Homo sapiens: one gene and its partners. The protein of the gene in region 1 interacts with the protein of each later gene in a pairwise test. Each region holds a gene or a part of one and is shown in the gene's direction. Other genes may lie near its edges.

Region 1 (3,500 bases):
CCCCAAACAACTGAACTGAACTGTACTAAACTGAACTAAGGCAGGGTTTTTGGCTGCTACTTTGTTCAAGTTCAGGTAAGTAGAAGATATCTCATGTCTAGGTCTGAAAACAGCCAATGAAAGAGTTGCTGGAAATCATTCCAGGCAGTTATTTTTAAAAATGGTTTTAAGTACAGACAGGTATCACTTAATGATGGAAATACATTCTGAGAAATGCATCAGTAAGTAATTTCTTCCTTGTGTGAACACCCTGGAGTGTACTTACACAAACCATGAGCCTGCTACACCGTTAGGCTATATGGTGTAGCCTATTGCTCCTAGGCTACTAACCTGCACAGCATGCTACTGTACTAAATACTGTAGGCAATCCTAACCACAATGGTATTGAATGTATATGAACAGATCTAAACATAGAAGAGGTACAGCAAAAGTACAGTATCATAATCTTGGGGGACCACTGTCTTATATTGGTCCCTCAAGCAAAACATGATTACACAGTGCATGATTGTATAGGAAAGTATCTTTCTAAAACCCTTCACACCCCTGTGTGTGTGTGTGTGTGTATGTATATTATATATATGTGTGTAAGAAATATGTATATATTTCCTCCTCCTCTTGGAGAAGCCTGGTGTTTGTCTTTGTTCCTTCACACTGGCTATAACAGGGTTTCACTGTGATTCTCTTAGATTGAGTGTTTCTGTGGCATTTCACACAAGAACACAGTTTTAGGAGAGCTTTCTCTCTTTGGCCATCTGCCTCATCCCAGGAAACCAAAGCGCTGGCACATTAGCTCAGGGAAATTGCCCATGTCCAGTGAAGAGATGGTCCTGTCTACGTAGGCAGGTTCACTTAACCTTAAAACAGTATCCAATAAGTGATTTATGCCCAGCCTACCTCAGTCTTAGCTAAGTGATCCTTCAAGCTCCCAGAACTTAACATCTACCTGTGTGTGGATGCCTCCCACAGCCCATTCAGGGACTGAGGCCCTGGCTGAGAAGGTATTAGAAGGTTCCACATGCTTGGCAAATCTGATGCGTTTCCCCTAAATCCTGGAGCGAGTTGCTTTCCACCCTTCTTCCCTGGTTCATTTTGACTCTTTTCGCTTACTTAAAAAAAAAAGTCAATAATGTCTAAGCTTATAACAAAAATGACTGGATTCCATTTTGTGTTTCAAAGATTTGAATTACATTAAGCATCCAAAATATATCCAAATGGAAAAATGTTCATTAATAAATCATTTCTGTCTTCCTGAATAATGTAGTTGTAAAATTTAACAACTTGTAAGAAATATCTTGTAAAATGTACCTGGTTTTCCTTTTGAATATTCAAAAGCCTAATTTTAAAGAACTATTTGACATTTTAGTTTTTCATGTCTTTTGTTTTTTTGTCTTGCTCTGTTGGCAGGCCGGTGTGCAGTGGCGCAGTCTCTGCTCACTGCAACCGTCACCTCCCCAGTTCAAGCGATTCTCCTGCCTCAGCCTCCTGAGTAGCTGGGACTACAGGCACGTGCCACCATGCCCAGCTACTTTTTGTATTTTTAGTAGAGACGGGGTTTCACCATGTTGGCCAGGATGGTCTCGATCTCTTGACCTCATGATCCACCTGCCTCGTCCTCCCAAAGTGCTGGGATTACAGGCATGAGCCACCATACCTGGCCTTTAGTTTTTCATGTTCTGTAAGATTCTTTTAGGAATGATAGTGTGAGTGTTTTACATATGGTAAATATATTTCATTTTATCATAATTTAGGTGTGAATTTCCAGAAGGAAAGATGGGTAACGATTATATTAATTTAAGGTAATATTTAAGTTACAGAGGTTTTTCTTACTTGTGTTTTTTTAATAGAAAAAGTAGATTTTATATCTAGTTAGCTATCCATATTTAAAGTAAATATTTTAGGAATAATAAAAATGTTAATGTTAAACAAGTTTGCTGAGTTCCTATTTATCATAAAGCTTAAGTTTTGCCTTTGAAATCTCATTTTTTAGCCATCCATTTTAGATACATTGAAGGCTGCATTCCCATTTTCTTTTCATTCACACATCCACTTCAATAATTGACTTCAGTGCTTTCCAAGTTATGTGTGGTGAGGGATCAGTTTTTATTTTTTTAATTTCCAGTCCTTCAAACGAACACTTTTATAGTACAGACAAATTACTAGGCAAATGAAATTTTAAAAAGACTTAGAAAATATAAGCCCAATTTTAAAAATTATTTAAACAAGTGTAAACTAGAAACTCTGTCAAATTGCTGTGAAAAGTTTCTAAGTACTAATTTCTTCACAGACTCGTACCCAACAGTTGGTGAAGGGTCCCCAGTCCTCAGACACACTTTACCTGGCACAGTTCTGGTGGAAGCCATGCAAGACTGTTGTTGTGGTACATGATGATTTTACTCCATTTGGCTGGAGGTTATTTCAGGAGTGTAATTTCTTTTTTATATAAAATATTCATATTATATCAAAACCACATGACTTTTTTTAAAAAGACAGAAGTGTTTTTTTTCCAGCTCTGCTTTGCATGCCCATGTGCCCTGTAACTCCTTCCGCTGTCTCCCCCCGTGTGACACTGAGATGTAAAGATAGCATGGTGTTTAAAAGTGGCATAAGATAGGCATGAGTGTCTGTAAGCGCACTGTCATATTTACAAGCAGCAGTTGAGATGTGGAAGTGGAATTAAGTAATTAGGGATAGCTGTGTTGTGAGTGAAAGTATTTAAAAATATGATCAGTGCACATTTAAGGCAACGGAGCCAGTCAGGTCAAATAACAACTAGGATGAAACTATCAGTTTTCTTTGCAAACATCCACTGGCTTTGATTTTACCCAGATGGTAAAAATATATTATCAAGATAGTTGTTATGATAAAGGGAAATGTATCCTTTCTTTTCTCTTGGTGCCTCAGATCTACAGGCCATGAAGAAATAGAAGTCTCTACATTCAGATGGATAGGAGGCATTATATTTTTATCAGTGTTAGGAATATACCGTAGATATTTTACATTAAAACTGAAGTCACAGAGATGATTCAAATTCTTCTTCATAAAGAAGTGAGTGTTTACTTGAACATCGTTAACATTTTGATGAAGGGTCATTGACAAAGAAGCCATACACATTCGCTGTGTCAACTCCTCACTTCAGACTATTCATGAGGCACATAATCTTTTTTTTTCCTGCATAGTTGTGGAATATGAATACATTAAGGGGAATTTAATGGTTTATGATCCATGTCACTGTTTGATGGTGATGTTGAATGTTTGTTCTCTGGTGTCATAAGGCAGCATACGTATACAATAGCTTAGAAAAGGGGAAGAAATTATTTGTTTCTCTGCCACCCTCACCTGTAGCAGTTTTAGTTTAAAACCTTTTATTTACCCTTCTTAGTTTATTTTCTGTCCATATAACTGAAAATTATTGTTTGTTAAGAAAGAGATAGATGTATGGTGTCAAAGGCAGATGGCAGACTTCGGGGTTAATGTCATTGTTATTGTAATTGTCTGTTTAT
Region 2 (3,500 bases), on another chromosome or scaffold:
GTTACCTGTTTCCCAGAACACAAAACGGTGGGGTGGATTAACCATCACTGCTTTCTGAGAACACAGAGCTCAGGTAAAGTTCACAGTAGTCACCTGAAATTGATATTCATTGATAGTTCCATACTTTTAGCTACTTAATCATTCATATGTATTGCCTTGATGTGCTTTTAAAACTTACGTAAATACTGTGCTTCATGTATCCTTTTGCAGCTCTGTGAGAAAAAATTAAACTTTGTGGGGGTGGTTTTTTTTTTCCCAGGGGAGGGCAGCTTTTGGATTTATTTGTAGCTTTGGTTCTTCAACTGCTGAATTGTGTTCTTTTGTATGATTGTGCAAGTTTATCCATTCCCCTGTTGATAGACATTCAGCCATTTCCTAATTTTTTGCCTTTTTTTGGTCTATTTAAAGTTTTTATAATAGGCAATTTCCATGTCATATATTGCTATATATTACTTCTCTAGCCCCAGTGTGTATCTCTCCATGGTGTATATCTAGAAGCGGAAGCCCTGGATTGGAGCATACATATTTTCTACTCTACTACTGGTTCGTTCTGGTTGTATCTCATCATTAACAGCTTGTTTCTACATTGCCTTTCACCACTTAATAAGAGACTTGAAACCTTTGCCAGTCTGATGGTTGTGAAATGGTTTCTCATTATTTTATTTTGCATTTCTTTGATTACTAGTGAGCTGACTCTTTTCATATGTTTATTGCATCTTAGGTTTTTACACGCATGCTGCATCCTGCAAACCTGGCCATTCTGTAAATACTTACCATCTTCACCTAAGCTTATTTGCAGAGCCATAAAGTAAATGTAGCAGTAAAAAAAAAAAAAAAAAAATCAGCTGGATACAGTGGCCTATACCTGTCATCCCAGCACGTTGGGAGGTTGAGGCAGGAGGATTGCTTGAAGCCAGGAGTTGGAGACCAGCCTGGACAATATAGTGAGACCTTGTCTGAACAAAAAAATTAAATAAAAATTAACTGGGCATGCTGGCATGTGCCTATACTCCTAGCTATTTGGGGGACTGAGGTGGGAGTATTGCTTGAGCCTGGGTGTTAGAGGCTTCTGTGAGCTATGATTGTACTACTGCACTCCAGCCTGGCCACAGCGGGAGACCCTGTCTCAAAAAACAAGAACATGATTATCAATACCAGAACCTCATACTGAGGAGTAATATTTCTCTTTTCTGGCACATAAATTTCTTTCCAGGCCCCTTAGCCAGCTAATTACCAGAAGTTCAATACTCTCTGTTAATTCTATCCACCTGCCATTTTTAGGCCCCTGGTAGTGGTAGAATGTAGAGTGACTTAGGACAGAGTTCTTTCCTTCTTTGCCAAGGGCTGTGGAGATTAATGTCCTTCACTTTACACTTACCCCTCTCTTTCCTGGCAGTTCTTCTAGCCAAAATGTAAAAGCACACACAGTAGATATATGGGAACAATGCACTTCTGCTAAAATTTGCTGTGTACCTAAAACTTCTCTAAAAAATTAAAAGTCTATAGCTGGGCGTGGTGGCACGTGCCTGTAATCCCAGCTACTCAGGAGGCTGAGGCAGGAGAATCGCTTAAACCCAGGAGGCGGAGGTTGTAGTGAGCTAAGATCGCACCATTGCACTCCAGCCTGGGTGACAGAGCGAGACTCAGTCTCAAAAAAAAAAAAAAAAAAAAAATTAAAAGTCTAAAAAACAAACATGCAAAACAAGTAAACATGACTGACTTTCTTTTCTTTCTCCTTTCCTTTCCTTTTTTTCCTTTCTTTTTTCTTTCTTTTCTTTTTCTTTTCTTTTCTTTTGTTTTTTTTTTTTTTTTTTTTTTGAGACAGACTCTCTTGCAGCCACCCAGGCTGGAGCTCAACTGCAGCCTTGATCTCCTGGGCTCAAATGATCCTCCCACCTCAGCCTGCGGAGTAGCTGGGACTACAGATGTGCACCACCACACCCAGCTAACTTTTTAAAATTTTTTGTAGAAATGAGATTTTGCTACATTGCCCAGACTGGTCTCAAACAATCTTCCCGCTTTGGCCTCCCAAAGTGTTGGGATTACAGGCATGAGCCATTGTGCCTAGTGACTATTTTTCATAAATAGAATTTGTTTAAATCAAAATTGTGTTTAACTTAGTATACAGGAAGACTTCAAATTTTTGAGTTTTTATGTTAATGTAACTTTATATTTTCTTTCAGTAATATTTGAGATGAAGCACACTACATTTGAAATTTGAAAAAAAACTTGCAAGTCTTGAAAAACTGAATTTAACATACAAATGCGTTGATTTTGTCCACAGAACAACACTCTAGTCTCTGAGTAACTAGAGCTAGTCTCTTTGTTGTACTGTCATTTGCATATGTAAACCACAGAGCATAATAAATAAGTAGAATATTGTGAAAGCATTTTTTTTTTTTTTTGGAGACAGGGTCTCATTCTGTTAACCTAGGCTGGAGTGCAGGGGCGTGAACACAACTCACTGCATCGTCCACCCTCAGGCTCAGTCAGTCCTCTACCTCAGCCTCCTGAGTAGCTGGGACTATATATAGGCAGGCACAACCACTCCCAGCTAAGCTTTGTATTTTAAAAGCTTTACATATATAAAGATGGGATTTATAAATATAAATTTATATATAAAGACGGGGTTTATAAAGATGGGGTTTCACCATGTTTGCACAGGCTGGTCTTGAACTCCTGGGCTCAAGTGATCCACCCACTTTGGCCTCTCAAAGTGCTGGGATTACAGGCATGAGCCACTGCGCCCAGCCGTGAAAGTATCTTGAGTTTACTTCTCTTGTGGCATAACATTTCTGTCTAGATTGTCCATGAAAGTCATACACAAAGATTTACACCTAACACTTCAGCAATATTGTAACCACAACTTTTCTTCTGTTCATGCCTCCTTTCATTGATGTTGGAAGTGAGAAGTTTTCACTTGGAATTGTGCTTCTGAATTACCTCCTGCTCATTTTTCTTGAAATTTTACAATTGGGAGAGGCATAGACTTAGACAAATAAACATCGGTTTTATTCATCTCAGTAATACTTTGGGCCAAAATGTTATATTCATCATTGAATCTGCTGTACTAAGACCCCCATTGAGTTGAATATTTAGAGTGATTCTTAGCTCCAAGATTAGTCTTCTAGAAGCTGATACTGTAATACTTACATGCTGCCAACACTATTCCATGTTTTGCTTTGTTATGTTTTACGTAGATTTTTTGTTTGGAGGTTCTAGCAGGGGAGCGCAGCTGCTCATATAACCTTGACCAAAGACCGGTTCTCCTCTATCAGGAATGGTCATCCTCTTTGACCGAGTGCATAGCTTTGAGAGGGATGCACATGGAGTGGTGAGGGAGGAAGGGGACACCTGCCTAGCCAGCCAGATCAGCCGAATCAACCCTGGTGATCAATGGGGTGACAGATGTTGCAGCCAGATCGCCCTCACATCATACGTAGATTTTTTAAAAGCAATTGATTTCAGTAAAAAATGCAATTAAAGTTTTAAAATTAACA
Region 3 (3,500 bases), on another chromosome or scaffold:
ACCACACCCGGCAAGTTTTGTATTTTTAGTAGAGATGGTGCCTCACCATGTTGGCCAGGCTAGTCTCGAACTCCTGACCTCAAGTGATCCGCCCTCCTCGGCCTCCCACAGTTCTGGGATTATAGGAGTGAGCCACTGTGCCCAGCCAAGGATATTTCCTAATAGTTCTAGTTTATTAAGTGCCTTTTTCAGGAATAAACATTGGCATTTAAACATTTTAAATGCATTCATTGAGATGATTTTATTATGTTCTTGTATCCATATCCCGTTAACGAAGTAAATTGCATTGATTTTTGAATTTTAACCCAAACTTCCTGCATTTTGGAAATGAACACCATTTGCGATGTATATGTGAGTAGATTTTATTTTCAAATATTTTGTTTTGGATAATTTTAATGTATTTGTAAAATTTTGTTATCAGGAAGTGCTGACCTCAGTAACTAAAGTGGGTAGTGCTTCCTCTTATATGCTCTGGGAGAGTTTATGTTAAGTTATAATTATTTCTTTGAATTCATCCATAGAGCCATGTAGGCCTAACTTTTTGGTTGATTTGTCTTTAATTATGCCAGTGGTGCAATTAATTACTCATCTCTTTTCTATTTCTAGCTTGCAGTTTTAAAGAATCCACCAACTGTTGAAACAAATCCCTAGAGACACAAGGCAAGAGACTGAATCATCAAAGTAAAGTCTCTCTGAGAATTATTGCTAAGAATGGCTTTAGATCTAAGAACCATATTTCAGTGTGAACCATCCGAGAATAATCTTGGATCAGAAAATTCAGCGTTTCAACAAAGCCAAGGACCTGCTGTTCAGAGAGAAGAAGGGATTTCTGAGTTCTCAAGAATGGTGCTCAATTCATTTCAAGACAGCAATAATTCATATGCAAGGCAGGAATTGCAAAGACTTTATAGGATCTTTCACTCATGGCTGCAACCAGAAAAGCACAGCAAGGATGAAATTATTTCTCTATTAGTCCTGGAGCAGTTTATGATTGGTGGCCACTGCAATGACAAAGCCAGTGTGAAAGAGAAATGGAAATCAAGTGGCAAAAACTTGGAGAGATTCATAGAAGACCTGACTGATGACAGCATAAATCCACCTGCCTTAGTGAGTACAGGGTTCTAACTTCTGGGATGAGAGACAAAGGAAAGTAAGGAATAAATCACAGTCAGTTAGAGTTGTCTGGAAGTTAGAGAAGCTATTGGAGGTCCAGTTATTAGTCAGCTCACACTCTCCCACCATTCTCACAAAGAATAATCTTCAATGTCCTAAGTTCTCAAGAAAAAAAGCAAAAAGGTATATATCTGTTTATTCTGTAGGACATATAGGAGCCAAACATATTGATGTTTGATTAACTTAATTTTAGTCTGCATAATGGCAGACTCTGAGAAATTGACTTTTTGGCATGATATCAGCTCACTGCAACCTATGCCTCCCAGGCACAAGTCATTCTCGTGGCTCAGCCTCCAGAGTAGCTGGGATTACAGGCGTGCTCCACCAAGGCCGGCTAATTTTTGTATTTTTAATAGAGACAGCGTTCCACCATGTTGGCCAGGCGGTCTCGAACTCCTGGCCTCAAGTGATCCGCCTGCCTTGGCCTCCCAAAGTGCTAGGATTACAGGTGTGAGACCAGCCTGAAATTGACATTTAAATGAAGACATCAAGGTTGAGGAAGAAATGTCTTGACAAGAGCTTGTTCTTCTGTCAGGGAACTCTAATCAAGAAAGACATTCTAAAGAAGCAATTACGGTAGATCCTTATTCTCAGAGCCCATATTTGCAAAATTGCTAAAATTTATTTGTAAGCTTAAAATAAATACCTGAGGCATCTTCTCCGTCATTTTCAGATATGTGCAGGTGGTAAAATATTTGATTTACCTTAGGTGCATGTTTCCAGGTGAGGTTGAACAAGGCCACAACCTCACTTCCTATTTTGGTTCCTACAGTGTAAATAAGTGTCCTTTTCACAGTCTATTTAGTGGCACATTTTTTTTTTTGCTTTTTATTGATAACTTTGTTGTTTAAAGTGACACTGAAGTAAAATGCTGAAACACTGTCTAGTCTTCCTAAGTGCAGGAAAGTTGCTATGTATTATGGAGATAATACATGTGTTGGATCCTCTGAGTTCAGGATTAATCAATAATATATATTAAATGGGGTGTCTTTGAACATATACACACATAAAACAAACTCATGTATTGATCAGTTGACAAAAATAATGTAGCCAGAAGCTCACAGGAAACTAACCCTGAATTTTTCCTAGGGGAAATGATTCAGTACTTGTAAATTCAATGTCCATGTGACTTTATTAAACATAAGAGCTTGTAGTAACAAGAATAACACCATCAGAGATGGTGGACAAAATATGTGATAGCCAATACTTGAGGGAGCTTGTGAGAGCCTGTTAAGGACCACTTTTCCAAAAAGTCTTCTGTTACACAACAGATTCAGATACAACAGTGATCTGGCTTTCTTTACAGGTCCACGTCCACATGCAGGGACAGGAAGCTCTCTTTTCTGAGGATATGCCCTTAAGAGATGTCATTGTTCATCTCACAAAACAAGTGAATGCCCAAACCACAAGAGAAGCAAACATGGGGACACCCTCCCAGACTTCCCAAGATACTTCCTTAGAAACAGGACAAGGTAAGTCAGGTGAATCTGCACAACTGAGGAGTGTTCTATGTGGACCCCTTCTTAAGTACAACTTCATTGAGTGTCTATTTTCACAGGATATGAAGATGAACAAGATGGCTGGAACAGTTCTTCGAAAACTACTCGAGTAAATGAAAATATTACTAATCAAGGCAATCAAATAGTTTCCCTAATCATCATCCAGGAAGAGAACGGTCCTAGGCCTGAAGAGGGAGGTGTTTCTTCTGACAACCCATACAACTCAAAAAGAGCAGAGCTAGTCACTGCTAGATCTCAGGAAGGGTCCATAAATGGAATCACTTTCCAAGGTGTCCCTATGGTGATGGGAGCAGGGTGTATCTCTCAACCAGAGCAGTCCTCCCCTGAGTCTGCCCTTACCCACCAGAGCAATGAGGGAAATTCCACATGTGAGGTACATCAGAAAGGATCCCATGGAGTCCAAAAATCATACAAATGTGAAGAATGCCCCAAGGTCTTTAAGTATCTCTGTCACTTATTAGCTCACCAGAGAAGACACAGGAATGAGAGGCCATTTGTTTGTCCCGAGTGTCAAAAAGGCTTCTTCCAGATATCAGACCTACGGGTGCATCAGATAATTCACACAGGAAAGAAGCCTTTCACATGCAGCATGTGTAAAAAGTCCTTCAGCCACAAAACCAACCTGCGGTCTCATGAGAGAATCCACACAGGAGAAAAGCCTTATACATGTCCCTTTTGTAAGACAAGCTACCGCCAGTCATCCACATACCACCGCCATATGAGGACTCATGAGAAAATTACCCTGCCAAGTGTTCCCTCCACACCAGAAGCTTCCTAAGCTGCTGGTCTGATAATGTGTATAAATAT
Region 4 (4,080 bases), on another chromosome or scaffold:
AGACCTTGGGAAATATTTTCTTCCCCCAAGAGGTTGAGGCCCATGGAATGCATTAGGGGCAGGTGGGGTGGTGGTGCTCTGTAGCCTTTAGGACTTCTAGAATCAGGCTTCTGGGCCACCTTCTTAGCAGGTGTATACCTCTTTGTTCCAGACTGACTTTCTGTCTCACAATATCTTCACTATTTCCACAGTTGCAGCCAAGACAGGAAACTGAAAGCTGAGGCCAGAAGGGTGGTGTACTGGGGGGAGGGGAAAATTGAGTGTCACTTTGGAAAACTGGGGCCCCCATCTAAGGATTGCTGCCTCTGTAGATTCAAAAGCAATAAAACAGCAGCTCATTAACTCTTATTTTGTATTTTATTTTCTGTCTTTTTCATGTCTAAATAAAGATTTTTGCTTTGCTGTCCCCAAGTCCCCCTCCTTTAAAGGAGCTGCAGCTCCTTCTCTCCTTGTTCCCAGCTTTCCTTACCCATCTTTGCTTCTAGGGTTGCAGATGGGAGGGACGGGGGATGGACTGCTGAGCTGAAGAGAGGTTTCCAGCCCTCACCTGTGAAAGTCCTGAACATGAATCATTCATTTGGAGATCTGGTGTCTGGGTTGGAGGGGTGGAGTCACATACGGGAATGGGCACTTATTGCCTATTGGTTGTGTATCTACGTGATGGGCAAGATTAACTGGTAAGATCTTTTTGTCCCACCCACATCCCCAAGACTTGCACACAAACTGTACTTGTGTCTGCATCTTGGACACATTTCCATCTCTTTTTATACTTCTCCACTGCAGTCTTCACATGATGTCTGTGTCATGCCCTCTAGAGAAAGATATGCAAAACCACTTTAACCAGTTTCCCTGCTTCCTCACCTAATTCTTGGGCCTCTGCTGACAAAAATCCCCCCAGGTCTAATTTTCATTTTCTTCTGGAAGAGGCGGCAAGGAGGCTTGAACCACTTTCACATTCCTACCCCTCTCCCCGCCCCAAACCCCTTTGAGAAGACAAAAGAACGGAGCTTTTAAGGGAAGTCATCACTGAGACACTCCAGACAGGTAGCCCAGATGATTCCAGCTTCATAATCAATAGAACTGCTCCCCTCAAACGGTCTCCAGTACTCATGAACAGGAAGAGAACAGGGTCTGGGATTGGGGTAAAGAAGGGAGTCGTTTTTCTCTCAGTCCCCATTTCTTCCCCACCCGTCCGTCTCAGACTCCACCGTTTCCTCTCCACTTTTCCAGAATTGTGTGTATTCTCCTTTAAGGGGTTGGGCATCTCTCCCGCCCTCTCCAGAGTCGACTGAAGTTTCCGAGGAGACTTCTCAGGCTGGGCTGGACACACCTTTCCAAGGACCCCCAAACTCTGCTCCGTGCACGTCAAATGCTCCTTTCCCTTGTGTCCAACCCCCTACCCCTCTCCCTAACACCCCTCTTCTCAACAAGACTCAGCCTCTCCCCGAGGTGGGTGAGCATCCTTGAGGTTTCCCACCCTTAACTGCTGTGTCCCCGGATGGAGCCAGAGAAATGTGGTGGGGGGGCCGGGGCCAGAGTTTCAACATTGCCCCCCAGAAGGAGGAGCCAGAGATGGGGGTAAGGAGAAGGAATTTGGGGGGTGTCGGCAAGAGGGTGAGAACGGGGATGAGGTGGAGATAAAAGGGGGAAGCAAAGGCTCTAGAGGAGGAGGAGGAGGGTGTGTCTGTCTATCAGCTTCTGCTGATGGAGCCTGGTCCGTCTTTCTCAGTCTCAAGTTCGTTGTCTCATTATCCATTAACCAGCCCCTCCCTTTACTGTTTACCAGCCCTGTTAGGTCTGGAGCTCCCCACAGACACTGATCTCAGTTTCCCCCGAGAGTGTGAGTGTAGGCCTCTACAGGCAGCTGCCTCTGGGGAGTTGGGGAGCCTAGGGGTTAACTCTAGACCCCCCTCAACCCTCTGGACCAAAGTCTGTCCAGGAAAATAGGATGCCGGAGCCCAGGAGTCGTCAGCCTAGCAGTTGCCTGGCCTCCAGATGCCTCCCAGGTAATAATGCCCTATCACTCTCCAAAGACTTCCAAATTTCATCCTACGCCAATCTTGTTTCATGCCCTCACCAAAGATACCCCTGTGTTCCTCTCGTGGCTCGAAGTACGTCTGCCTGAGGCTCGCTGTCCTCCCTGACAGCCTCTAGAGCTGGCTGAGAGCTGGACCTTGACATTCCTTCTGTTTCCTTGACCCTGTTACCCCTTTTCAAATTTACTTATTCGATACATAGTTAGTGCCTGCTATGTGCCAGGCCTTGTTCTAGGCTCTGTTCTAGTTACAGAAATTAAAAAACATTTATCTTTCCTCATAAGCTTACATTGTAGTGGGCTTTGGGGAGGATTTTAATCTTCCCTATTTAGATCTCCCTTTCTTGGAGGGGTGGGTGTATCCAAGTGTGGGCAACACTGGGAACAGTCATAACAGGGCTTCCCTTCTTCCCCTTTAGGGGAGCAGATCCTAGCATGGGCCCCAGGGGTGAGGAAGGGCCTGGAACCAGAATTGTCTGGAACCCTGATCTGTACCAACTTTAGGGTCACCTTCCAGCCCTGTGGATGGCAGTGGAATCAGGTGAGATGGTTGGGGCCACAGAAATGACAGCTAGTGGGAAATGGGTAGGGGAGTCTAGCAGGATTTAGACAAACATTATGGGTTAAGGGCTGTCTTTTGAATGTATCATTGATAATCAGTGGGAACTCTCTCTAGGGTTGTTGCCCCCTAGAAGGGGTTGGGGCTGCCAGGGTAGGAAAATGAGGGCGATTTCAGATGTCTACCCAGTCACGTGTTTCGTCTAGGACACTCCCTTGAACAGTGAATACGATTTTGCCCTGGTCAACATTGGACGATTAGAGGCTGGTAAGTTGGGGGGGGGTTTGGTGAAGGGGTTCACTGGGGTTGTTGGAACTCCCTCCTCATCCTTCCTCTGTTCTCAGAAAACAGCAGGGATGGAGTGGGATGGGCTGCAAGAGTCCCTTCTGGAGAGACTCTGGTCCATGGTTACACTGTTCTGTACCTCTTGACTTCAGTGAGCGGCTTGTCCCGAGTCCAGCTCCTCCGTCCAGGGTCCCTGCATAAATTTATCCCTGAGGAGATTCTGATTCATGGCCGAGACTTCCGGCTGCTCAGAGTTGGTTTTGAGGCTGGAGGCCTAGAGCCTCAGGCTTTTCAGGTAAGAGGCCCCTAACCTGAGGCTTTCTCCTCACCTCAGAACCTTGGGATCCTCTCCCTGACAATTTCTGAGACTCCTCCAGCCCCTGGGATCCTCTCATCATTCCCCCTGCTTCTCTCAAGGAAAGGCTAAAAGGCTGGGATAAATGATTGCGTGATGAGAGTAAAGAGCCTGCGCTCTAGCCTTACTCTATTAATTACCAGCAGTGTGACTGTGGGCAAGTTTCCTCCTCTGAAAAACCAGGATTCCTCCCAGAATCATCATTCTAGGATTCTGTGGTTCCAGATTTGTTCTCCCGACCCCAGTCCCCATGACCTGAGGAAGCCCCCTTCTCTAGGGACTGTCTTCACTGTTCTTCTTCATTCTTGGCAAAGAGAGTGGAGCAACACATGGGCTCCATTTCCTTCTTTTCACTTACTCAGCCTAAGCCAAAAGGATGGAATGTCCTTTCCTCTGCAGGTGACCATGGCCATTGTCCAAGCCAGAGCTCAGAGCAATCAAGCCCAACAGTATTCGGGGATAACCCTGAGCAAGGCTGGTGAGTGAGAGTGCTTTAGGGTAAGGAAGAGTCTGAAAAAGCAGAGGATGGCTGATGACAAAGAGCTGAGAAGCTGTCTCTGATTTTCTCCTTCCTCCTCTATGTCTCACTCCTGTTCTAGGCCAGGGTTCTGGCTCCAGAAAACCACCAATTCCTCTCATGGAGACAGCGGAAGACTGGGAGACTGAGCGGAAGAAGCAGGCAGCCAGAGGCTGGAGGGTCAGCACGGTCAACGAGAGGTTCGACGTAGCCACCAGGTGATCCCCCAGTGCACCCCAACCCTGCTGCTCTCCCAATCTTCCCTTAGTTCCTTGATCCTCTAAAGCTAGGACTTCCCACAAACTCCAGCCTCCTAGGACACCCACAAA
Region 5 (3,500 bases), on another chromosome or scaffold:
CAAAGCATCCAAAACAAATGCCTAAATTTGAGAAGTAAGGGACTAAAGATAATATTATGTAGAAGGTAATCTTTAGGCCAAGTCTCTCCTCTTCCACTCTGTCTTATTATGGTAGTGATTCAGATATTGGTTCCAGATTATATGCAATTTGATCACCCACTCCGACACTTGCTGTTAATTAAGTCTCAGTTTGGGAAAGTTACTACTTTATAGACTATCATATTACCCAGGTTTTATAATGGCCAGAAGGATATAGTAAGTTTGAACACTAATAGTTTGCATCTAAAATTTTGAATATCTTTTCTTTCCTGTAGGCTATAGAAAAACATCTTATTAAGAAGTCTCGTGGAGGTCTTACCTTTATTGGAGAATGGAAGAATGGGCACTTGGAAAAAAAGATGGGGCATTTGGCCTGCTTTGCTGGGGGAATGTTTGCACTAGGAGCAGATGGTTCCAGAGCAGATAAAGCTGGTCATTATTTAGAGCTAGGGGCAGAAATTGCACGTACTTGTCATGAGTCATATGACAGAACTGGTAAGAATATTAATAAGGCTAATTATATAGTCTAAAATAATCTCTAAGTTAAAAATGTGTTCAGCAATAAGAAGGAGAATATATAGGCACTTTTTACTTCCAAATAGTTTACACCAACAAGGCAAATCATTTTCTTAAGAACTTGAATTTTAATTCTGGAAATGTGTCTCTGCATTATTTTTTAAATTCTGAATTCTGCTGCTGTTTCTGTTAAAGATTTTGAAGTAATTGTTTTAAAGACAAGAATCGTGGGGTATTTGGGAATATATGGAATAACTTTTAATATAAGAATCTATTTTTGCCATTTCAGCTTCTATAAAAACAGTTACTTAAAAGAACATAAAATTGACTGACTTCAGTTATATTGCCTTGCCTATCCTCTTGTGATAAGAAGAATAACCAAAAGATAACAATATTTATCTTTATTGGTATCTGGCTAACTAGTAGTTTTTCAATTAGTTCACCAGTAGTTTTTGGAATTGTTTATGGCTTTAACTAAAAAGATCCTCTGACATTGCACTGGGCAAATATTTTCTGAACTTCAGTGTCCTTACTTGGAAAAGGAGATGATTCCTAAATGGTGACAAAAATTGTTTTGGTTGGGGCTGAGAAAATTTTTACTCTTTTTATGTATAAAGCACAGATATACATATAGTCATAAATAGATACACAGTATATATTTGGTATTAAAATTTTATGGAGGGAGAAGGCAATTAGGCTTTTTTAAAAAAGACAAAAGGTTTCTTAGGGGTGCAGTAATGAAAAGGGGGCTGAAAAACACTGGACTAGACCTTCCAAGGTTTTCTCTGGCTTTAAAAACATGAGTTTCTATATGAAGTAATAGATAATGAGCTCCCTGAAAGCCAAAAAACTAGAAATTTCTATTTGATTTCGGAAGTTGAATTGTTGATTTTATTAAATAACAATTTCTGTTTTAGGGTTAATTTATCATCAGATACCATGAAACAAATATGATTGACCTAAAATTTATGCTAGTTCATAAATCTGTCAAGTTATTTTTATACAGTAAGGAATTAAACTTATGGCAAAATTGATTCTTCAGTTCTCATTAACTAAATAAGGGTTCCATTTCTTGAAAGAATATAAGTCAAGAGGACGGTGAAGTAGTGTTATTTTAGGGTAGTTTAAGTGTTGTTGTATAATACATATAATGGCAGCGATCTGAGTTCAAAATAGAGGCTAAATTAAATTATCGTGTTGATACAGAATGCCAATTATGCCTTAAAATATAGCTAAAATTAGTAAAACATTGAGGACCAGGATGGATATTCAATTTTATATTAGGATCCATGAGAATAAGGATTGTTATTTTGCAGATTTTGACCAAAAATCAAATAATAGACCTAAAATAATTGAATTTCATATAGCATACATTCTAAAATATGGTATATCATAGTTACTATAATTAAATATTTACTCCATGAAACAGGGAACAGCCATTATATGCCAAGTATTATGCTAGATGCTTATAGGTTAAAGTATGAACAAGATACATTCCCTGCCTTTCAGAAATTCATAGTGTACCAGAGTTTGAAAGGATTTCCTTATATTTCTGATTTTAATGTTTCATAATGACATTGCTGATGCTGATTCTTGTTCTGATTGTCATTTTCACATTGCAAGTTGATGAACCCATGACCCTCTTTGTTATGGTAAACCAAAAAATGATTATTTGATTTGTGTCCTGTATTTTCAAGTCTTCTGTTGTTTTTACTTGTCTTTAATCTCAATTTAGATCCTTTAATTAAAAAGTACAATCCTAGTTTTGCTAACTTTCCAGCAGGTTATTATATCCTCTGCTGTGTTTTCTTATAGCTGTGCTATAATTTTTGGCCACCATATTTTAAAATATCCATTCATTTTTCCTTAGTAGTTATTCCAGCTAAATATATACTGTAATTATCTACAACTAAATCAATTCATAATCTAAGCTCTAAAATGTTTCCTTATATGTGTGTATTATGGCAAAATGTCTTTAAAATTACCTTGCCTTTAAAAAAAACATCCACACAGTGTCATTATCTATATACTTTTATTTTAGACCACAATGGACTGTATGATGTGCAAATGTCTAGTTTGCATTTGTTTCCAAAAGATTACTAGACTCTTTTTGGTAGAATTAGATTTAGCAGTATGTTGATACACATTATTCTGAGAAACATTTTATGTTAGAATAACAGGAATGTTTATAAGTCTATTTTAAGAAAACCAAATGTGGATCTTTTAAAATGACTCATTTTGCACTGAGTGCAAACAGCAACAATAAAAATAAACAACAAAAATTACTTCATATTCTGTTCTTTCAGGGAAGAAAGAAGTCCTTGCAAACAAACATAAATGGTTTATTTTGCTCAGTTATTTCTTTTGTCATGTTACAGCATTAAAGCTAGGTCCTGAATCATTCAAGTTTGATGGTGCAGTGGAGGCTGTGGCTGTCCGGCAGGCTGAAAAGTATTATATCCTCCGTCCAGAAGTAATTGAAACCTATTGGTACCTATGGCGATTCACTCACGATCCAAGATACAGGCAGTGGGGCTGGGAAGCAGCACTGGTAAATAAGCCAATATTCCATTTTATCTGCAAGAGTGTTAACTCATGCCCTCCTATGATGCCACATACCCTCACCCATGTTACCTCATTTTTAGTATCTGTAGGGCAGTTTTTATTTATCTGATGAAGAAACTCTTAGTCAATTTAAGTTTCTGGGCAGTAGAAATAAATCTTACGATATATATTAAATATATATTAAAATATATTAAAAATATATAAATATATATATTTCAAAGGAGGAATTTTTAATGGTTAGTTAAGTAAAGGAAGCAAGTGGTTTACTCTTAAAGTCTTTCAGGGAATCCATAGCTATCAGTACCTAGGGAGGAAAAAACTATTAGTCTTTTATGAAAGTATAGCTTATTCCCAGGGTAAGGGGTTGTTTTATTCTTTGA
Region 6 (3,500 bases), on another chromosome or scaffold:
TTTGCTCAGAGGCAGGACTTATGATTCTTCACTTCCTAGGTTTCCTCTCTTCCAGAGGATCGTCAGTCCCAGCTGCTGGAGGCTCTTTCATTCTCTTGCTGTCATAGTCGTAGTGAATGTTAAACTTCTTTAGGGACACTGGGCCCCTTGGAGAATTGGAGAATGTGTCCTGGCCCAAGGTTGGCAAAGAGGAGCTGACCCTGCCAGCCAGTGTTTGGAATGATCTCTGCACTCGTTGACAGACACGCACCTGGGGCCACGCCATATGCCCTCTCCTCCCTGCAGGCACACAAGAGGAGCAGTCCCGCGGGGGCCACGCACGCCCCCTTCTCTCCTATGCCAGCATCCGTTCCCTCTAGTCAGGGTGGGAAGTGGGAGGGACCAGCCGCAGGGGGCGTCCCCATCCACCTTTCAACCGGAGAGACGGCAGAGCGTGACCTCGGGGAAGCACGTCCCACGTTCCATACATGTGGAAGGAGCTCTGTGTTTCTGATCTACCCGAGGGTCCTGGACTGTTCTGAGCGTGTCTTCTCAGGATCAGGAACACACATCAGCCCTCTGCGATGTGGAAGATGAGGCTCACCGATGTTTGTTTGTTAGCTCACACATTTTAAATTTCAGGATTTGCCAGACTGTTGGTGTGAAAGCAGGAGCCCCAGACGAAGCTGTGTGCGGAGAGAATGTTTCCCAGATTTACTGTGCGCTGCTGGGCTGCATGGACGACTACACCACGGACAGCAGAGGGGACGTGGGCACCTGGTACGTACGTAGCAGTGGGTGAGCGCTTCTTCTGAGAAGCCCATCTATTCCGTGGAAACTCGGAGGCCCCGGGCTTTTCTGCAGGGAGAAATCTTTGTAGATTTGTGCCGTGTTTTGCGTTTTAAAGGCTCTGGGGAAGATGACCTGTTCTCTGCTCCCGGGTGAGCCTGCGTGGCAGGGCTTTGCAGGTGCTTGTCCAGCCCGTCCTCAGGTGTTGGGCCTGTGTCGTCCTCGTTGACAGGGTGTGAGGGAGGACGCGTCTTCAATGAAAGGCTGCCGGCTGCTTACATTGGGTTTTGCCAACATTTCTTGCTGTAGTGGGATTGATAACCCCTGAAACGCCTGTGTGTGTAGGATGCCTCGGGGCCCCGGTGTGTGTGGCTGTGGGTGGCTCCCTGCACACGTCCCTGTAGCGCACAGGGAACCTCTGCAGGCCCCGTGACTCCCTGGCAGCGTGCCTGGGCTCTGTGTGGGGTTAGTCACGGGTGTCGAATTCACACAGGCTGCCGGCGTGGTGGGCAGAACCAGGGTTGGAACCCCCCTCTCAAGCTGGGTGTCTCTGCCTCTCCTTGTCCCATCAGGGTCCGCAAGGCCGCCATGACCAGTCTGATGGATCTGACACTTCTGCTGGCTCGGAGCCAGCCTGAGCTGATCGAGGCCCATACGTGAGTGTCACGTCGCAGCTCTTCTGCATCCTAGAGGGCAGCCCCGAGCTTGGGGAGGCTGGCGGGGCGGGCGGTCCTGGTGCTCAGTGGCATTTGCACTGCTGGGCACACACCCTCCTCCCAGAGAGCCTCTCTGGTCCCTGACCCCAGGTTTGTGCAGGCCCCTCCTCCTGCCCCCATAGCCATGGCGTGAGCTGGGGCCCATCCTCCTCTGCCCAGTGCCCCCAGGACGAGGCTCTGCTCCCCAGCCTGGGCCTCCAACGGTGCTCTGGCCAGTTTGATGACAGCCAGCTTCCCGGGGTAGGGCCGGGCAGGAGGTGGGGACTTCTCAGCTTAGGACCCTGAACCTGGGGGTCTGCTCCTGCCAGGACCAGCTGAGCCATCACTCAGTTCCCTGCACCTGAGGCTGCCATTGGGGCCTGCCCTTGCTGTGTGTCTCTGTCGGGGGCACGGGGTTGTGGGTACCCCCAGGCCCTGCCCTTTCTGTCGGTCTCTCTGTCGGGGGCACTGAGTCATGGAGGTCCAGGCCCTGCCCTTGCGGATCTCTGTCAGGGGCACTCAGTCAGGGGGTCCAGGCCCTGCCCTTGCGGGTCTCTGTCGGGGGCACTGAGTCATGGGGGTCCAGGCCCTGCCCTTGCTGTCAGTCTCTCTGTCAGGGACACTCGGCCGTGGGGATCCCAGGGCCTGATTTCCTTAGTTCTCACCTCTTTCTCTTTCCCCCTCCCCATCTCTTCCCCAGCCCCAGCTTCTCTCTCCCCATCCCCGGCCTCTCTGTCCCCATCACTCTTCTCCACCCGCTCCTGTAATCCTATTTGTTGTCCCTGCTTCAACCCTAAGACCTCATCAGCACGCATGTAACACGTAGCACATGTGTAACAAGTACGTAGCATGTATTTGCTGCGCACCTGTAGGGTTGGGCTCCTGGGATGTGAAGGTAACGGAGTGTGGTTCTTCCGAGCCAGTGTCCTGGTGTCAGCTGCCAACTCAGCCACCATGTCCCGAGGAGCCCGCATGTCCTCGTGGTGCTTGGGCTGGAGTCACGGCTCGGACCGCCTGTGCTCAGTTTACCGCCCGCTCTTAATTTACCGCCCGCCCTTGGTTTACCTCCTGCTCTCGGTTTGCAGCTGTGAGCGCATCATGTGCTGTGTGGCCCAGCAGGCCAGTGAGAAGATTGACCGTTTCCGTGCTCACGCCGCCAGCGTGTTCCTGACGCTCCTGCACTTTGACAGCCCTCCCATCCCCCACGTGCCCCACCGAGGAGAACTGGAAAAGCTGTTTCCCAGGTACTGTCGGGGTGTAGGCCCCCCGTGCTGGCCCCGCAGCCATGGCGAGATCATTGGCAGCCCGGCCTTGTCTCACTCACTCTCTTGCAGGTCCGATGTGGCCTCCGTGAACTGGAGTGCACCTTCCCAGGCCTTCCCACGCATCACCCAGCTCCTTGGGCTGCCCACCTACCGCTACCACGTCCTGCTGGGGCTAGTCGTGTCCCTGGGCGGCTTGACGGAGTCGACGGTGAGGAGGCGTCGGGCTGGCTGGGGCAGGAGGTGGCTCCAGGAGTGCCTGGTGCTTCCCTGTCTCTTGGGAGCATGTATGGAGCTGGGCCTTTTCTTCCATTGCTTTCTATCTCTCTCGGGCATATTTGGTTAGGGGGTCAGGGGCCCAGTGTCTTCCTCATGACCCAGGAGGCTTAGGGCCTGTGGGATGGTTGAGTCTGATGAAGGTGGGACAGGGCCAGCGCCACTCTCTTCCTGCGGCCGCAGCCTTGGAGCTCCCAGCGTCCCCTCGGGGTTCAATCCTCCAGGACCTGTGTCTGATGCCTGCATGTGGGTACCTGGGCTCCATCAGGTTCTAGATCGGCCTCCGCCCTCCACTTTCAGGGCTCCAGGCCCAGCTTCTCATGTCTGTGGGGAGGGTCTCCAGAGCCTTGGTCTGTGGCTGAGCTGTGGAACTTGAAGGCCTCTCTGCATCTTGTCACTCGTGGCCCCTGCACCTTGGGTCATGACCTGCTTTATGTGGCAACCCTGTGACAGCTGCTAAGTCCTAGAAAACACGTAACAGGACGTGAGGTGCCCTCTG
Region 7 (3,500 bases), on another chromosome or scaffold:
GAATTGGACAAAATGCACAGACAAAGTAAGGAAGGAATGAAGGGATTTATTGAAAATGAACATACACACCACAGTGTGGGAGCAGGCGGAGCGTAGGGGCTCAAAGGTCCCGTTACAGAATTGTGGGGCATTTACCCCCAGAGGATTCCATTGGTTACTTCAGATACACCTTATGTAAATGGAGAGGATGAAGTATTCAAGTTACATAGTCATACACCCTATGGAGAGGATATTTCCTGTTATAGCTGAAGTGTGAATCGATCTTCACACTTCAGACCCTATTTTCCTGCCTCATCTGCCCCTTCAAGAGATGTGATCCCCATAAATCTTTATGGGAGGCAGAGGGACCGATGGTCTTTTTTCTGTAACTGCTTCATGCTGGCTTGGGGCATAGTCCCTACCTATTGGGGATCATGGAACTCTCACCCTGCTCTATCTAGTGGAGGAAGGGTAGCTTCTTGATGTCCAGGGGTGGTGTCTTCACTTGGAACTGGCTGGAACCTTTGTTACATGATCATCTGAAGCTTGATGGTCTCTAGGTGAGAGGAAATGAATTTGGTTAAAAGATTTAATGGAAACTTTAGGGGGTGGATACCTATACTGTCAGAAATGTTTGTTGTAGTGATTTGCAGAAGAAAAAACAAAACCTAGTCTTTTCTAGAATCTATGTGTTTCCTTAAAGTCTTGGCATGAGTGGCCCCATTTTGGTTTTGTTTGGTTTGTTGGGGCCTAGTGCATGAGATCAGTCCAAAACAACGGCCTCCCAGAATTTTGTTGAAAAAAATTCCCTTTTTGATCAGGTTTTCACTTAGGTGAGAGTGTGACCAAAACCTAGGGCCTCAGTGCCACTCTCAGTTACCATCATTTTGGGTTTCTGGTCTCAGCATGTCATTTATAGGTTATGGTGTCCTCATGGTTGCATATTTCTTTGAGCTCCTGTTATTCCAGTTGAAGAGAGACCATATGACATTCTAGAGATGGCTCATGCAAGCATTTAAAACCTTTGAGAGCATACAGCTCGTCAGGGAGACCATTATTATGGCTATTAGGAGGATAATACCAAGAATTTGGGAGTATACTCCTTACCCAAGGTCCCCATAAACCAAACCTCCTAAAATCAAATGGATCTAAGAATGAGCTAGATACAGTTTACTCACGGCTGGGTGAGGTGGCTCACTTGAGGTCAGGAGTTCAAGATGAGCCTGGCCAACGTGGTGAAACCCCATCTCTACTAAAATACAAAAATTGGCTGGGTGTGGTCACGTGCACCTGTAATCCCAGCTACTTGGGAGGCCAAGGCAGGAGGATTGCTTGAACCTGGGAGTCGGAGGTTGCAGTGAGCCAAGATCACGCCACTGCACTTCAGCCTGGGCAACAGAGAGAGACTTGACTAATCAATTTCTTTGTCAGTCTCCTACCACTGAATTTCTATAGTCTTCATTTGATGTATTTCTGTATAGGCCACAAGTGCCAGCAGCTGCACAGATACTTCGCTGTTTAGCCAATTCTATTATAACTTTCACAAGAGAATTTAGAGTCTGTAGCCTTTAGAGTAGAATTTGCTATGGAACCTATCATGAGGGATACATTTCTAATCATTGCTTCTTTTACTTTAAACCATGGAAAAAGGACCTAACAAATGATGCCCTTTCAGAAGAGTGAAGGACTTCTGGCAATGTTCTCTTTAACCCACGATGTGGGTTATGTGGAGTGAATCAATTTTTTGTTTTTGATTGATTATGAGCTAACACATCTACCATTAAAGTTTCTTACATACATTGGGCCTTTATCCATGTATAAGGCTGGCTGCAAACTCCTTCACAAATAAAAATGTTCCCCATAAGTGCACATAACAGACCCCTTTTCCACTTCTATTGTTCGTAGAAGGCATAAGCAAGAAAAAATATTCAAAAATAAGAGTTTCATGATAGTAGAAGTCTTAATCTGTGAACTTGGGAAAAGCTGTTCACATCAATGATGTCATCTTCTTCTTGGGAGAAATTTCCCTAGTTAGTTTTACCTTAAGCATTCCAGTGGGTGCACAGCTCCAAGAGCATGGAGGGGCCCTTCTCAGTTGTGAGATTATGAACCCAAAGTTCAAGGTCCTGAAGTTTTGTTATAGTGTAGATGGCAAGGACAGTCTTTCTCTGATGTTTCCAGCAGATTCAAACCATAAAAAGCTTTTTTTTTTAATCTGGTGAAAATACACTGTAGCATAATAATCTACTGTTATAACATCAGCCCTCTTGCATGGGAAAGCTTTTCTACAACCAGAAAACATGCATGGAAAATAACAATGGAATGAAATCCCTTTATAAAATGTTTAAATGGCTGACCAGAAGACCAAATATACCTGAAGCTTTAATTGTTTTCCTAGGAATATGGGATCAAGCATTGGTTATAAACAATTTTTTGTTGTTATTTAGTTTTTATTTCATAATCATAAACTTTAACTCAACTCTGCAGTCCAGCTAGGCATGGAAGGGAACTGCAGCGAGAGCACAAAGATTCTAGGATACTGCGAGCAAATGGGGTGGAGGGTGCTGTCCTGAGCTACAGAAGGAATGGTCTGGTGGTTAAGATAAAACACAAGTCAAACTTATTAGAGTTGTCCACAGTCAGCAATGGTGATCTTCTTCCTGGTCTTGCCATTCCTGGACCCAAAGCGCTCCGTGGCCTCCACAATATTCATGCCTTCTTTCACCTTGCCAAAGACCACATGCTTGCCATCCACCACTCAGTCTTGTCAGTGCAGATGAAAAACTGGGAACCGTTTGTATTGGATCCAGCATTTGCCATGGACAAGATGCCAGGACGTGTATGCCTTAGGATGAAGTTCTCATCATCAAATTTCTCCCCATAGATGGACTTGCCACCAGTGCCATTATGGCATATGAAGTCACCACCCTGACACATAAATCCTGGAATAATTATGTGAAAGCAGGAACCCTTATAACCAAATCCTTCCTCTCCAGTGCTCAGAGCATGAAAGTTTTCTGCTGTTTTTGGAATCTTGTCTGCAAACAGCTCAAAGGAGACGTGACCCAAGGGCTCGCCGTGACTGCGATGTCAAAGAACACGGTGGGGTTGACCATGGCTGATAGTACAGGGCTCCTGGTGGCAGTGACGGCATCTGCAAAGCGACAGGTTATAAACTATTTTAAACAATTTCAGTATTAGCTGGTTTAACATGAAAGTCTTTTCTTGATATGTAATTAATTTTTTGTTGTTGTTGTTTTACGTGGGTTAGTAGCTTTATACAAGAAAATTTGGTCATTTTTGTGGTTTACAATAACTTAACATAATTATAATTGTGATTGGTAACATATACTTAGACATTAGAATTTGAGAAATCCCATACAATTTTGGAATATATTATTCACAAAAATATAACCTAAAGAAGATTTAACATCATTTTGTCAATCCCATGTACCTAAACATGTCAAATAATCCTGTTTACCTCTTTTCTGGATGTTTTCAGGGGCCCTCTGATTCATCTA

Evidence for each region.
Region 2: the proteins of SMAD9 (region 1) and DSTN interact in a two-hybrid assay, tested with the Homo sapiens proteins (one large-scale study listed by BioGRID and IntAct).
Region 3: the proteins of SMAD9 (region 1) and ZSCAN4 interact in a two-hybrid assay, tested with the Homo sapiens proteins (one large-scale study listed by BioGRID and IntAct).
Region 4: the proteins of SMAD9 (region 1) and MTMR11 interact in a two-hybrid assay, tested with the Homo sapiens proteins (one large-scale study listed by BioGRID and IntAct).
Region 5: the proteins of SMAD9 (region 1) and MAN1A2 interact in a two-hybrid assay, tested with the Homo sapiens proteins (one large-scale study listed by BioGRID and IntAct).
Region 6: the proteins of SMAD9 (region 1) and TBCD interact in a two-hybrid assay, tested with the Homo sapiens proteins (one large-scale study listed by BioGRID and IntAct).
Region 7: the proteins of SMAD9 (region 1) and CYP11A1 interact in a two-hybrid assay, tested with the Homo sapiens proteins (one large-scale study listed by BioGRID and IntAct).

The regions. Positions count from the first base shown.
Region 1 is NC_000013.11:36,875,239-36,878,738, reverse strand, and holds part of SMAD9 (mothers against decapentaplegic homolog 9), read left to right. Parts: intron 1-3,500. UniProt on the Homo sapiens protein: Transcriptional modulator activated by BMP (bone morphogenetic proteins) type 1 receptor kinase. SMAD9 is a receptor-regulated SMAD (R-SMAD).
Region 2 is NC_000020.11:17,573,075-17,576,574, forward strand, and holds part of DSTN (destrin), read left to right. Parts: intron 1-3,500. UniProt on the Homo sapiens protein: Actin-depolymerizing protein. Severs actin filaments (F-actin) and binds to actin monomers (G-actin). Acts in a pH-independent manner.
Region 3 is NC_000019.10:57,675,435-57,678,934, forward strand, and holds part of ZSCAN4 (zinc finger and SCAN domain-containing protein 4), read left to right. Parts: intron 1-606; 5' UTR 607-711; coding exon 712-1,107; intron 1,108-2,479; coding exon 2,480-2,645; intron 2,646-2,731; coding exon 2,732-3,471; 3' UTR 3,472-3,500. UniProt on the Homo sapiens protein: Embryonic stem (ES) cell-specific transcription factor required to regulate ES cell pluripotency. Binds telomeres and plays a key role in genomic stability in ES cells by regulating telomere elongation.
Region 4 is NC_000001.11:149,934,080-149,938,159, reverse strand, and holds the start of MTMR11 (myotubularin-related protein 11), read left to right. Parts: upstream 1-1,280; 5' UTR 1,281-1,498; coding exon of another isoform or gene 1,499-1,512; coding exon 1,513-1,578; exon of another isoform or gene 1,579-1,930; coding exon 1,931-2,006; intron 2,007-2,454; coding exon 2,455-2,576; intron 2,577-2,800; coding exon 2,801-2,861; intron 2,862-3,031; coding exon 3,032-3,174; intron 3,175-3,633; coding exon 3,634-3,712; intron 3,713-3,833; coding exon 3,834-3,969; intron 3,970-4,080.
Region 5 is NC_000001.11:117,496,449-117,499,948, forward strand, and holds part of MAN1A2 (mannosyl-oligosaccharide 1,2-alpha-mannosidase IB), read left to right. Parts: intron 1-314; coding exon 315-534; intron 535-2,933; coding exon 2,934-3,106; intron 3,107-3,500. UniProt on the Homo sapiens protein: Involved in the maturation of Asn-linked oligosaccharides. Progressively trim alpha-1,2-linked mannose residues from Man(9)GlcNAc(2) to produce Man(5)GlcNAc(2).
Region 6 is NC_000017.11:82,926,565-82,930,064, forward strand, and holds part of TBCD (tubulin-specific chaperone D), read left to right. Parts: intron 1-621; coding exon 622-759; intron 760-1,340; coding exon 1,341-1,424; intron 1,425-2,548; coding exon 2,549-2,707; intron 2,708-2,797; coding exon 2,798-2,936; intron 2,937-3,500.
Region 7 is NC_000015.10:74,361,147-74,364,646, reverse strand, and holds part of CYP11A1 (cholesterol side-chain cleavage enzyme, mitochondrial isoform a precursor), read left to right. Parts: intron 1-2,605; exon of another isoform or gene 2,606-3,095; intron 3,096-3,500. UniProt on the Homo sapiens protein: A cytochrome P450 monooxygenase that catalyzes the side-chain hydroxylation and cleavage of cholesterol to pregnenolone, the precursor of most steroid hormones.